Linked DNA regions of Homo sapiens: all the other regions are linked to region 2. The links come from fine-mapping of genetic effects on gene expression. A gene starts in region 2. Each other region holds a variant in brackets. All regions are shown on one strand. Distances are from middle to middle.

Evidence for each region. PIP is the estimated chance that this variant, and not a neighbour inherited with it, causes the effect. A credible set is the group of variants that fine-mapping cannot tell apart.
Region 1: its variant is the best candidate, but not a certain one, in a credible set for the expression of CYSTM1 in tibial artery (GTEx, PIP 0.67).
Region 3: its variant is the best candidate, but not a certain one, in a credible set for the expression of CYSTM1 in whole blood (TOPMed, PIP 0.54).
Region 4: its variant is the best candidate, but not a certain one, in a credible set for the expression of CYSTM1 in whole blood (TOPMed, PIP 0.63).

What each region holds. Positions count from the first base shown.
Region 1 is chr5:140,152,647-140,155,329 of GRCh38, forward strand. It overlaps LOC124901086 (a long non-coding RNA gene), which reads right to left. Exons shown (of 4, transcript XR_007058964.1): 3 at 1,409-1,480. Among named protein-coding and RNA genes, the nearest start is that of CYSTM1, 21 kb to the right of the region's middle. RefSeq lists an enhancer at 1,365-2,024. The variant C/A (reference allele first, on the strand shown) is at 1,048.
Region 2 is chr5:140,173,743-140,176,425 of GRCh38, forward strand. CYSTM1 (cysteine rich transmembrane module containing 1) reads left to right here and starts at 1,446. Exons shown (of 3, transcript NM_032412.4): 1 at 1,446-1,543. RefSeq lists an enhancer at 1,024-1,253 and a silencer at 1,544-1,833.
Region 3 is chr5:140,255,351-140,258,033 of GRCh38, forward strand. All of the region lies in intron 3 of PFDN1 (prefoldin subunit 1), which reads right to left. Among named protein-coding and RNA genes, the nearest start is that of PFDN1, 46 kb to the right of the region's middle. The variant AAACAAC/A (reference allele first, on the strand shown) is at 1,030.
Region 4 is chr5:140,200,957-140,203,639 of GRCh38, forward strand. The region is part of intron 2 of CYSTM1 (cysteine rich transmembrane module containing 1); the gene reads left to right. Among named protein-coding and RNA genes, the nearest start is that of CYSTM1, 27 kb to the left of the region's middle. The variant T/G (reference allele first, on the strand shown) is at 1,227.

The DNA.
Region 1 (2,683 bases), 21 kb before region 2:
GGGCAACTTGGTGGGGCAGAGGGGTGGCCCCACCTGTGGGAGGGACTGAAAAGATCCTGCCTCAGGACCAGGACTTTGGTGATCCCAGTTCTCAAGGACCCCCTGCTCAGGCTGCTATTATCCAAAAGGGCCGAGGGTCAGGATTTCAGCCCCAGCCCGGGCCCAAGCCTGCACTGTTGCCTCTACCAGGTCCAGCCCTGTCCTGCGCCCCACAGAGCGGAAGGACACAGGCCAGGATATGGGCACAACAGCCCCCAGTCCGGAAGTGAGTGGTCAGGTGGCCAATGGGACCGCAGACTCTGTTGTTGTGTAATAGTTTTTATTTATTAAGCTTCTTTTATTTAATAAAACTTTTATTAAAGCTTCTATTCTTCTATTACGCAAACAGAGAGCAGCTCTTTTCCTAAGGGAGTGGCAGGGCATGGGGACAGATGTCTTAAATATACTACCCAATGTCACCAATTTCAACTTGACAATGAAAAGACAGAGAGCGGAAGGAAGCCCCTTCCTCTTTATGCACTGGAGCGCTTCCTCCATCTCCTCACCCCTCCCCCAGCCCCCTCCCTCCTCCTCTCTCTCTCTCCTTGGCATAAGAAAGCAGGTCTCTGGCATTGGCAAAGAGAAAAGTTAAAGGCAGAGAAGCAGTGAGAGGAAGGGAGGAGAAATCAGGCAGCCTGTAGCTAAAGGGTCCCCATCCCACCTTGCAGGCTAGCCAGGACACCTTGCATTCTGGTAAGGTGGGGGTGGGGTGCCGGGGATGAGGTAGGAGATGGTGACTCTCCCTTGCAGGACATCTGATCTTCTTGCATCAGGCCCAAGGACCTGGTGTCATCATTAGTGGGACCAGGCAGGGAGGAAGGTTCCCCAGCGGACCTAGCTGACCGTCCCCTGGAGGCCAGCCAAAGTGTGCGTGGCCACGGCTCAGAATTTGCATCAGTAACAGCACCAGCAGCCCCTGCAGCGGCAAGGGAGATCATTTATCCAGTGCTTGCTATGTGTCCGGCCCTGTGCTTAAGTATTTTTCATTCATTATCTTTTTTAATCCAA[C/A]CAAACCTCAGGAGAGTTTATTAATTCCATTTAACAAATGAGGCAACTGAGGCTCAGAGAATTTAAGAGGCCTCTAATTAGGGCAGTCCTTTTTGCACTCTGCAACCCATCTGACCTCTTCCTTCTCAAGCCCTGGTCTGCAGCCCATCCTTCCAGAGCTGGAGAGGAGGCAGGACAGGCTCAGGAAGGTTCTACTTTTTCCCTACTCTCACAGCCCCCTACTTCCACCTGTCCCATAGCTGTTTAATTCCATTGTCTCAAAAATGAGGGCTGCTTGGGTTTTCATGGGGAGGGAGCAGACAGCAGGGCCAGTGCACCCTGGCACGTGGGAAGGGGCCTGAGCCCAGCTTGGCATACTGACCTGGCACGGCCTGGCTAGCATCGTCGTCCCACACGTCAGAGTAGCCATGGTCGCTTTTGTTAGCTGGGATTACTGCATTCAGGAGGGAGGAGGAGAGAAAGGAGGGGTCCCAGGCTGAGGTGGGAAAGGGAGGGGGCGCCACAAACTCCTAGGGGTGAGAGTGAGCAGAGATTTGTGGCTCAGGCTGGCAAGAAAGACTTGCCAGGGCTCCGTTAGTGGCCTCAGCCCAACTCCAAGCCCCTGGGACTCAGTTACTCCCTGCCCCGAGTGGCTTTCTCTTCCTCCCCACTCCTGCTTGCTCTGCCTCCATCATGGCTGGGGCAACTGGGACCAGCGGGAGCCCTGCCTGACTCCCACATTTAGAAAAAGAGGATGTGTACTCCACCCTCAGCCCCAGAAAGATTTACACCCATCTGTTGAATCCATGAAAATATGACTGAACAGGAGCCCAGCTTCTTCCCAGGCAGCCACTGATCTCTTCCCTCCCTCACCTCCTAGGAGCACAGGCTTTGCAGTCAAAGAAACTTGGCTTCAAATCCCGACTCCTCTGCTTTTTAACTGTGGGACCCTAAGCAAGTTAGTTCACCTCTCTGGGTCTCAGGTTCCTTATCTCCAAACTGGCAGAATCCTGTGACAAAGGAGCTATAAAAGATAAAGGCCTATATAAAAGAATATATAGTCCGGGCACGGTAGCTCCCGCCTGTAATCCCAGCAGTTTGGGAGGCTGAGGCGGGTGGATAACCTGAGGTTGGGAGTTCGAGACCAGCCTGACCAACGTGGAGAAACCCCGTCTGTACTAAAAATACAAAATTAGCTGGGCGTGGTGGCACATGCCTGTAATTAGCTGGGCGTGGTGGCACATGCCTGTAATCCCAGCTACTCGAGAGGCTGAGGCAGGAGAATTGCTTGAACCCAGGAGGCGGTGGTTGCGGTGAGCCGAGATTGCACCACTGCACTTCAGCCTGGGCAACAAGAGCAAAACTTTGTCTCAAAAAAAGAAAGAATACATAATAACACTAATGTTTGTCAAGTGCCCATTATGTGCCAGGACGTTTCGTGTATTATCTCACTAAGTCCCCCAAAACACTCGATGAGGTTGGTGTTATTATTATTGCTCCCATTTTATAGGCAAGCAAACTGAGGCTTAGGTGAAGAAATTTGCCAAAGCTGCCAAGCCTTAGAGCTGCGATACGTGCCCAGGACCCAGATAACATAGCTTATGCTCTCAGCTCCCCTGACGTGCTGGTGGCTGGTGCGTCTGGTTGCCTGGAACCA
Region 2 (2,683 bases):
TCAGGCCTGGCTGCCTCTGTCCTGTTCCTACCAACCTTCTGACCATGCCTCTGTGCTCCTTGGGACCTGGGCTCACATTTTCAATCTCTTCTCTCCTATTAGTACAGCTCTGTCTAGAGCCATGGTTCTTCTCTACCTTTCACAGCTGTCTTCTTTCCCACTTATATGAGTTTCTTTAAGTGTGAAAATTAAAAAGTGCCACTTAAATACAATGATTAAGTCATAATAAACAGTACAAGTTGTACTTATGTGAGACATACCACCCATACACGTTTGATCTTCGAGAACCACATCTCAATCTGCCCATGGCCCATTGCCTGACACTAAAAGATGCTCACAAGAAGTTGACTATAAACTAACTTCTTGGTCTAAGATCCTAAACTCTTGAGAGGGAAGGTTTCAATACATATGAAACCTTCTTGGCAGTGCAGGGATGAGGAGAGTAAAACTGAAATGAAAGTCAGCAAATAGTGAAGGTGTGAAATAGGCAGTGACTCTCACACTGAGACCTCCAGGGGATGTTAAATTTTCATTTCGAAGCTGATAGTCTTATCTGGGAAGCCTAGAGAGTAACAAAAGTTGTAGGCATATACTTATATTAGAGTGGTGCAAAAGTAATTGCTGTTTTTGCCATTTAAAAAAAAAATGCAAAAACCACAATTACTTTTGCACCAACCTAATAGCAAGCAAGGGGAGGAATATGGAGAGAAAATCAATTTCTAAAATGAAAAATAAAAAATTTTTTGCAAGTAGGACTTGCAAGCTCATTCTAGGCCTTGCTCTGGGAGCTTTTCGGTAACTTCTCTTCCTGTTGGAACAGAAGAAGGAAACCTTCAGGACAGAAGATTCTGTCCCCCTTCCCCCTCCTGATGTGAATGAAGTCTCATTACACTCTAAAGTACTGGCGGGACTACTTGTTGCAAGGTTTATGGGGAAAAGTAGCCAGAGAGCAATCCAGTTATCAGCCTCAGCCCCATTCCGCTCAGGTACAGCTCGGGAAGTAAGCCCCCAACCCTAGTTGGGTCTGGACCAACAAGACACGAGGAGGCAGCAGCCCACAGCCGACCCCTCATGCCACGCACTGAGCAGGGTTCCGCATGGACGCTGGTCTTGCCTCCCAGGCGCCTGAACTAGCGGAGTTGGGGTATCGGGTGGAGTCTCGGAGAACCAATCCAATCTGAGGGGGACGCCTGTGGGAGTCCTAAGTATCCAGCGCAGCTGGGAGGCCCACGTTGGGAAGTCGGAGACCGACCCCGCCTCCCGACTGCGCCGACTGCAAGAGAGCGCTTCCGGCGGCGCTTGGAGGCCGAGCAGTTGGGGGCGGGGCTCGTGCTGTGACGCAAGCCTCGCCTCGCCCCGCGCCGCGCGCGTTGCCAGGGTGATCAGGTGACTCCCGGTTCGCGGCGCTGGGAGCGGCCGTGACGTCAGGCGCCCGGCTGCTCCTCACTTGCTCTGAGACAGGTGCGGCAAGTCTACTGCGGGCTGGTCCGGGCTCCTCAGGTTCAGACCCGACCGTTATCCAGTCGGTTCGTGGAGAGGAGAGGTGAGGTGCAGCGGACCTGGCCCGACCCAGCTGGGACCAGGGCGGGGATCAGGCACGGACAGGGCGCGTCCCCGGGCTCCCTGGGGAGCGCCCTGAGAACTGGGGGGCACCCGGGCTGGCCTGGCTCAGGCAGGGGTTCGCGCAGCCCCTGGGGAGGGGCAGGGAGGCAGGGAAGCTGCTGCCGCCAGCTGGATCCCTCCCGGCGCCCCGCGGCTACTCTGGGGCTCCTGGTCGCCGCGCCGCGCGTCTCGGCGGTGGACTCACAGGGTCTCCGCGTCGCTGCGGTTCTCGTCTCACGAGGAGTCGGCGGGCTCGGAGCGGGGCTCGCCACACCCCGTCCCGGGGGACGTCCGCGGGAGGCTTCTGGATTTCTTCGCCTTGGGCTGCGATTTCTGAGGCGCTGCTCTGCCTATTCCGAGCTGGGCCAGCCGGGGGCAGGGGGCAGGTCGCGAGTCCCGCGGGTGGGAGCGGAGCGGAAGTAACTAGTGACTGGAAGTAACTAGGGAACGCAAAGCCGGCGCTCGGAGGCCGGGGTGTTCAGAGAAGGCGTTGCGGGGGAAAGGAATCCCGGCTGCTGTTGAGAGCCGTGGATTGGGATCTGAGCGGACCTGTTGGAGGAAGTGAAATCTGAGCGGGGTCCTGACGGGTGGGAACTAATCTCCCGGTAGCAGTGGAGGTTGCAGGGGGGAGAGAAGGAGGGGAGGACCCCTGGGGAAGGAGACCATGAGGAAAAACGATTTGGGGACTGACTGGACCGTCTGCTGGGCTGTTTTGGGGGAAAAAAAGTTTGGAGAATTAGGTTAGGGAGGATTAGGAAAGGACCCTTGAGTGCCCACCTGAGAGGCACTGTGTGCTGTGGGGAGCCATTGAAACGTTGGCTAGATTGGGGTAGGGGGAACACTGAGGAAGTTGGTGTGAGGGGAACACTGAGGAAGTTGGTGTGACATTCCGGCAAAAAGGTGACAACACTCTTCTCTGATGGGATTCCTCAAACCCTGCTTATGAAATACTTGTAACCGACAAGGGTAGGGGCTCAGGCAGCCAGGTGCCTTTTTCAGCCATTGTTGGCAAATTTTTAGAAATTAAACAAAAAATAATTGTACATATTTATAGATTTATACAATATGATACATGTAAACT
Region 3 (2,683 bases), 82 kb after region 2:
AGGATCACTTGAGGGAAGGAGTTTGAGACCAGCTGGCCCTTGGGCTGTAATTTACAGAACCCTGGCCGAGAATATCACCCACCTATTAGTGAGACCCTATCTCTACAGCGAGACCCCCATCTCTACAAAAATAAAAAAATCAGCTGGGCATGGTGGTGCATGTCTGTAGCCCCAGCTACTCAGAAGGCTAAGGCAGGAGGATCACTTGAGTCCAGGAGGTTGAGACTGCATGCAGTGAGCCGTGATCATGCCACTGCACTCAAGCCTGGGTGACAGAGCAAGGCCCTGTCTCAAAACAAAACAAAAACACACACACAACCCTTCCACTTAGACAATGATTTCATCCCCACATACCTTCTCAGAAACTTCACTCTTACCATTAACCTTCCTTTCTTCTTAATCTTCTATTTCTTACTCTGCAAGATCCTTCTTGGTGAGGCAAACCATTAAAAAACCCTTTCTTTACCTCTCAGTCCCCTGAAAGTACTGCCTTTTTTCTGCAAAACTTCTTGAATCGGTTTTCTAAGGCAGCTGCCTCCCCTGTCTTCCCTCCTATCTGCTCCTCAGACCTCTCCAATCACACTTCTACCTCCTCTAATGAATTGGCTGTGATTCAAGTCCAATGATCTCTATGGGTGCTTCTCTGTCATCTTACTCAACCTCTCAACAGTGTTCAACACAGTTCTTGGAACACTTTCTCCTTCTAGCTTTCATGACACCACACTTCTATTCTCCTCCGACATAACTGGCTACTCTTTCTAAGTTCTCCTTTGCTGACTACCCCTCCTCTGCTCAGCTTCCGAATGCTGCATTTCCCAAGAAGCTGTCCTGGAACTCCTCCTCTTCTCCCCATCTGCACTCCCTCTTAGAAACTCTCATCTCGGCCAGGTGTGGTGGCTCACACCTGTAATCTCAGCACTTTGGGAAGCTGAGGCATGAGAATCGCTTGAACCCAGGAGGCAGATGTTGCAGTGAGCTGAGATCAAGCCACTGTACTCCAGCGTGGGTGACAGAGCAAGCCTCCATCTC[AAACAAC/A]AACAACAACAACAAAACCAATACTCTCATCTCATAGCTTTAAACATTATATGACTCCTAATTTGTATCTCCAACCCTATATCCCCTTAATTCCAGATTTAACATATCCAATTATTTATAAAACATATCCTCTTTGATGTCAAACCCAGACTTTAATATGTTTAAAACAAACACAACTGATTTATGGTCACCCCCACCCCTACCCCTCCCTGACTTCCCCATCTCAGTGAATGGCACTCATCCAACTGCTCAATGTAAAAAACAAAAAATGACAAAAAAAAAAAAAAAAAAAAAAAAGCTATGTTTTTCAAGAATGACCCTACATGGCACATCCCTGATTTTTTTCTTTTCCTCAATCCCCACACCTTCCATCCAATCCATCGGCAAATCTTATTAGCTTACTTCCAAATATATTCCCAAACTCTACTCTTCTTTCTATCTAGCACCACTGCCCTCGTCCTAGTCCAAGCCTCCATCATCTCTTGCCTGGAGGTGTGTCGTGGACACTCTCACACTGAATCAAGTTAGCCTCTGCTCAAAAAACCTCTAATGGGCCAGGCGTGGTGGCTCACACCTGTAATCCCTGCACTTCGGGAGGTTGAGGCAGGTGGATCACCTGAGGTCAGGAGTTTTGAGACCAGCCTGGACAACATGATAAAAACCCTGTCTCTACTAAAAATAAAAAAAATTAGCTGGGCATGGTGGCACACGCCTGTAATCCCAGCTACTCAGGAGGCTGAGGCAGGAGAATCGCTTGAGCCCGGGAGGTGGAGGTTGCAGTGAGCCGAGATCACGCCACTGCACTCCAGCCTGGGCAACAAGAGCAAAACTCCATCTCAAAAAAAAAAAAAAAAGCCTCTAATGGTTTCACCTCACACTTAGAAAACAAGCCAGACTCTTTAACCAAGGTGCTCAGGCTCCACATGGCCTCACTCCTGCCAACCCCTCCACTTCATTACTACTCTGTCCCCCTTTCACTTGCTTAAACAGCTCCAGCAGACTTATTTCTGTCTTAAGACAGGAATATCTCTCTGTGTAATATTTCTCTGTGACCTCCACCTGGAATGTTCTTCCTTGAGATACTTTTAGGTGGCTGTCTGCTTCTTTTCATTCACATCTTAGCTGAAATTTCACTTTTTCAGAAAGCCCTTCCCCAATTATTCAACTAAAGAAGGTCTCCAGTAACTCTCTAAAACATCACCCTTACTACATGATGGTTTCTTGTTTATTTCTTTATTGTCTGTATCTCAGTGTAAGCTCCAAAGAGTAGGGATCATGTCTGATTTGATTAATGCTATAACCCTAGCACCAAGAACTGGCACATAATTCATCTAACCAACAGGTATTGGGCACTCAGCACTCCAAAGAGCACCAACAGTAGAGAAGCGAACAAAGCACACACTTATCCCTGGAGATTATACTGTTGCAGGCCACACAGACATTTAGCTACCATTGTAATAAGGGATCTGAGGGAAACCATGGTCTTCGATGGAGGAAACATCTGATGGAATCAAGGAACTCACAGAGGGACTTGAGAACTCAGCTCTGAAGGATGAGCAGGAATTAACAAGAGGAGAGGTGAGAGTGGGGAGAGAGTAATTCCAGATAAATGGAGTCCGGCAAGTTGGGAGAACTGAATGTCAACCAG
Region 4 (2,683 bases), 27 kb after region 2:
TTCTTTCACTTAGCTTGATATTTCCAGGGTTCATCTATGTTGTAGCATGTATCAATACTTTATTCCTTCCTATTGCCAAATAATATTCCATTGTGGATATACCACGTTTTAGTTATCCTTTCATTGGTTGATGGGCATTTAGGTTGTTTCTACTTTATGGCTATTAGGAATAATGAATAATGGCTGTTATAAACATTTGTATAAAATAGACTCCATCCTGGAGGAATGGCATGTGAATACAGGGTGAGAGGAATTGGTGACCGTCTGTGCAAACAGTCCACCACATTCTGCCCTTTGCTCTCAACAATTTACATCCCCCTCATATGCAAAATATATCCACCCCCTTCCACCACCACTAGATGTCTCATCCAATAATTACATCAGCTTGAAATCCAGAATATTATCATCTAGGTAGTCTATATGTAGGTAAGGCCTCTAACCTGCCATACTGGTCCATATACCCTAACTTTGTTCATGCTGCTTCCTTTACTTCCCACCTCTCATTCCCACTCTGCCACAACCTACCCTACACATCTCTGGCGATCAAAAGAAAATATCTCTTCTTCCTTGAAGCTTTTGCTTACCTATACTATACCTCCAGTAGAATTTACCACTCCTATTTGCTTCAACTGCACCCTATACAGACTTCTTTCAGAGCCCTTCTTCTTGCTCCAGATTCAATAGTGTCTACCTTATGTACAGTCCATTTTAGCTTTTTTATGTCTGAATTCAATCAACCTTGCTCTTAGTGTTTAGGCTTTCACTGTTTGTTTTGGTCAAGACTCTTAAGGCTACAAGTGATAGAACCTTAGCCTTAGATATTAACCAGCAACGGAGGTTCACCAGACATCTGAGTAAAGAAAGCCTCCAAGATAAAAGATGATGATCCAAACAGAAAAAAGGGATTCTGAGGGAACAAACATTGCAGGGAGAAGAAAACCCTCCTACCAGAAAGTGGGGGAATCCTCTAATACTCTTTTTTTTTTTTTTTTTTTTTTTGACGGAGTCTTGCTCTGTCATCCAGGCTGGAGTGCAGTGGCGCAATCTCGGGTCACTGCAACCTCCGCCTCCCAGGTTCAAGTGATTCTCCTGTCTCAGCCTCCCGAGTAGCTGGGATTACAGGCATACGCCACCAAGCCCAGCTAATTTTTGTATTTTTAGTAGAAATGGGATTTCACTGTATTGGCCAGGCTGGTCTCAAACTCCTGACCTCAGGTGATTCACCC[T/G]CCTCGGCCTCCTAAAGTGCAGGGATTACAAGCATGAGTCACTGCGCCTGGCCTGCTAATATTCTTAAGTTATACTGAAGATAAATCTTATTGAAATAAGAGCAGTGGTACTGTATAAAATGAACTCTGGAAACAAAAGCACTTAGCAAAGAACAATGTGAAACTGATCTCACCCTAAGGATTAGATCCAAAAGGTCCATTTGGCAGCCAGATCTTGCCAGAGCAGAATTTAAGGCATTTGCCATAGGTGGAAGGTTGATGTATGTTTTGGTTATCTATTGTTACGTCACAAACCACCCCCAATCTTAGAGGTTCCATAATTTGGACAGGGCTTGAGCAGAAAGATTGATTCATCTCTGCTCCTTGTTGGCACCTACTGAGGCTGGAACGTAGATAATGATAAGCAATTTGCTGGGTTGGATTTGTACACTTTCTACCGTCCAATATGATCCATCAACTTTCTTCTTGGCTTTGTATTATGTCCAAAAGGGTACTCTTGGATTGACTTACACTTGCAATACAGAGAAAGAAGCCATTTGGTTTGGCCAGTGCTTTAGAAGGGAGAAAGGGGTGGGAGCATGATGTCCAACTGCTGGGAGGGGTCAGGAGGCACCTACATGCTAGTATTTCTGTGTGCATTCCAAACCAGTGTTGGGTTTCTCCACTTCTACTGGCTTTGTTTGATCTTATTGTCCTTGAAGATTTGATTAACTTCAACCCTATTCTGTCAGCTGTTTCAGTTCCAATGGAACCTTGTAATTCTGGCTCATTATAACAAGAAATTATCTCAAATCCAAAAAGAAAAAAAAATCACGTCTGGTATTTCAGCTGACATGATTGAAACAGCGTAGGGTTGGTTGTCTCTGTCCCTCTGCATGGTCTCTCAGTGCTGCTGTCACAGCATGAGAGTTTCAGAGTAGGTGGGTTTTTTCCATGTTACAATGCAAGAATGGAATCTGCCAGGCCTTCCTGCACATGTACCCCTGAACATAAAATAAAAGCCTTAAAAAAGAAATGAAACAAAAAACTTTCGATTTAACTTCTAATTTTGAAACAATTTCAGACTTAGAAAAACATTGCAAAGATAATACAAATGGTTCTGTATACCTTTCATCCCGATTTCCCCAAACCTTACATAGCCACAATACAATGATCCATCAGGCTTTTTCACCCCCTTGGCTCAGAAGTCACACAATGTCACATCCATCACACTCTTGGTCAAAGCAACATGAAGTCTATCTAGCCTAGTTTCAAGGGGAGGAAAATAGACTTCATTCCTTGTTGGGAGAGTGGTAAGTCACATTGCAAAAAGGCATATGGGATGGGAGATCTTTGGAAACATTACCACAAGTTTCAGTGGTGACAGGTGAATTCCTGTTGACTGAAACATTCTAAATAACAAAACTATTTCTAGATTCTAATAAATATGCCATAGTATCATAACTGTTTAAAGTGAA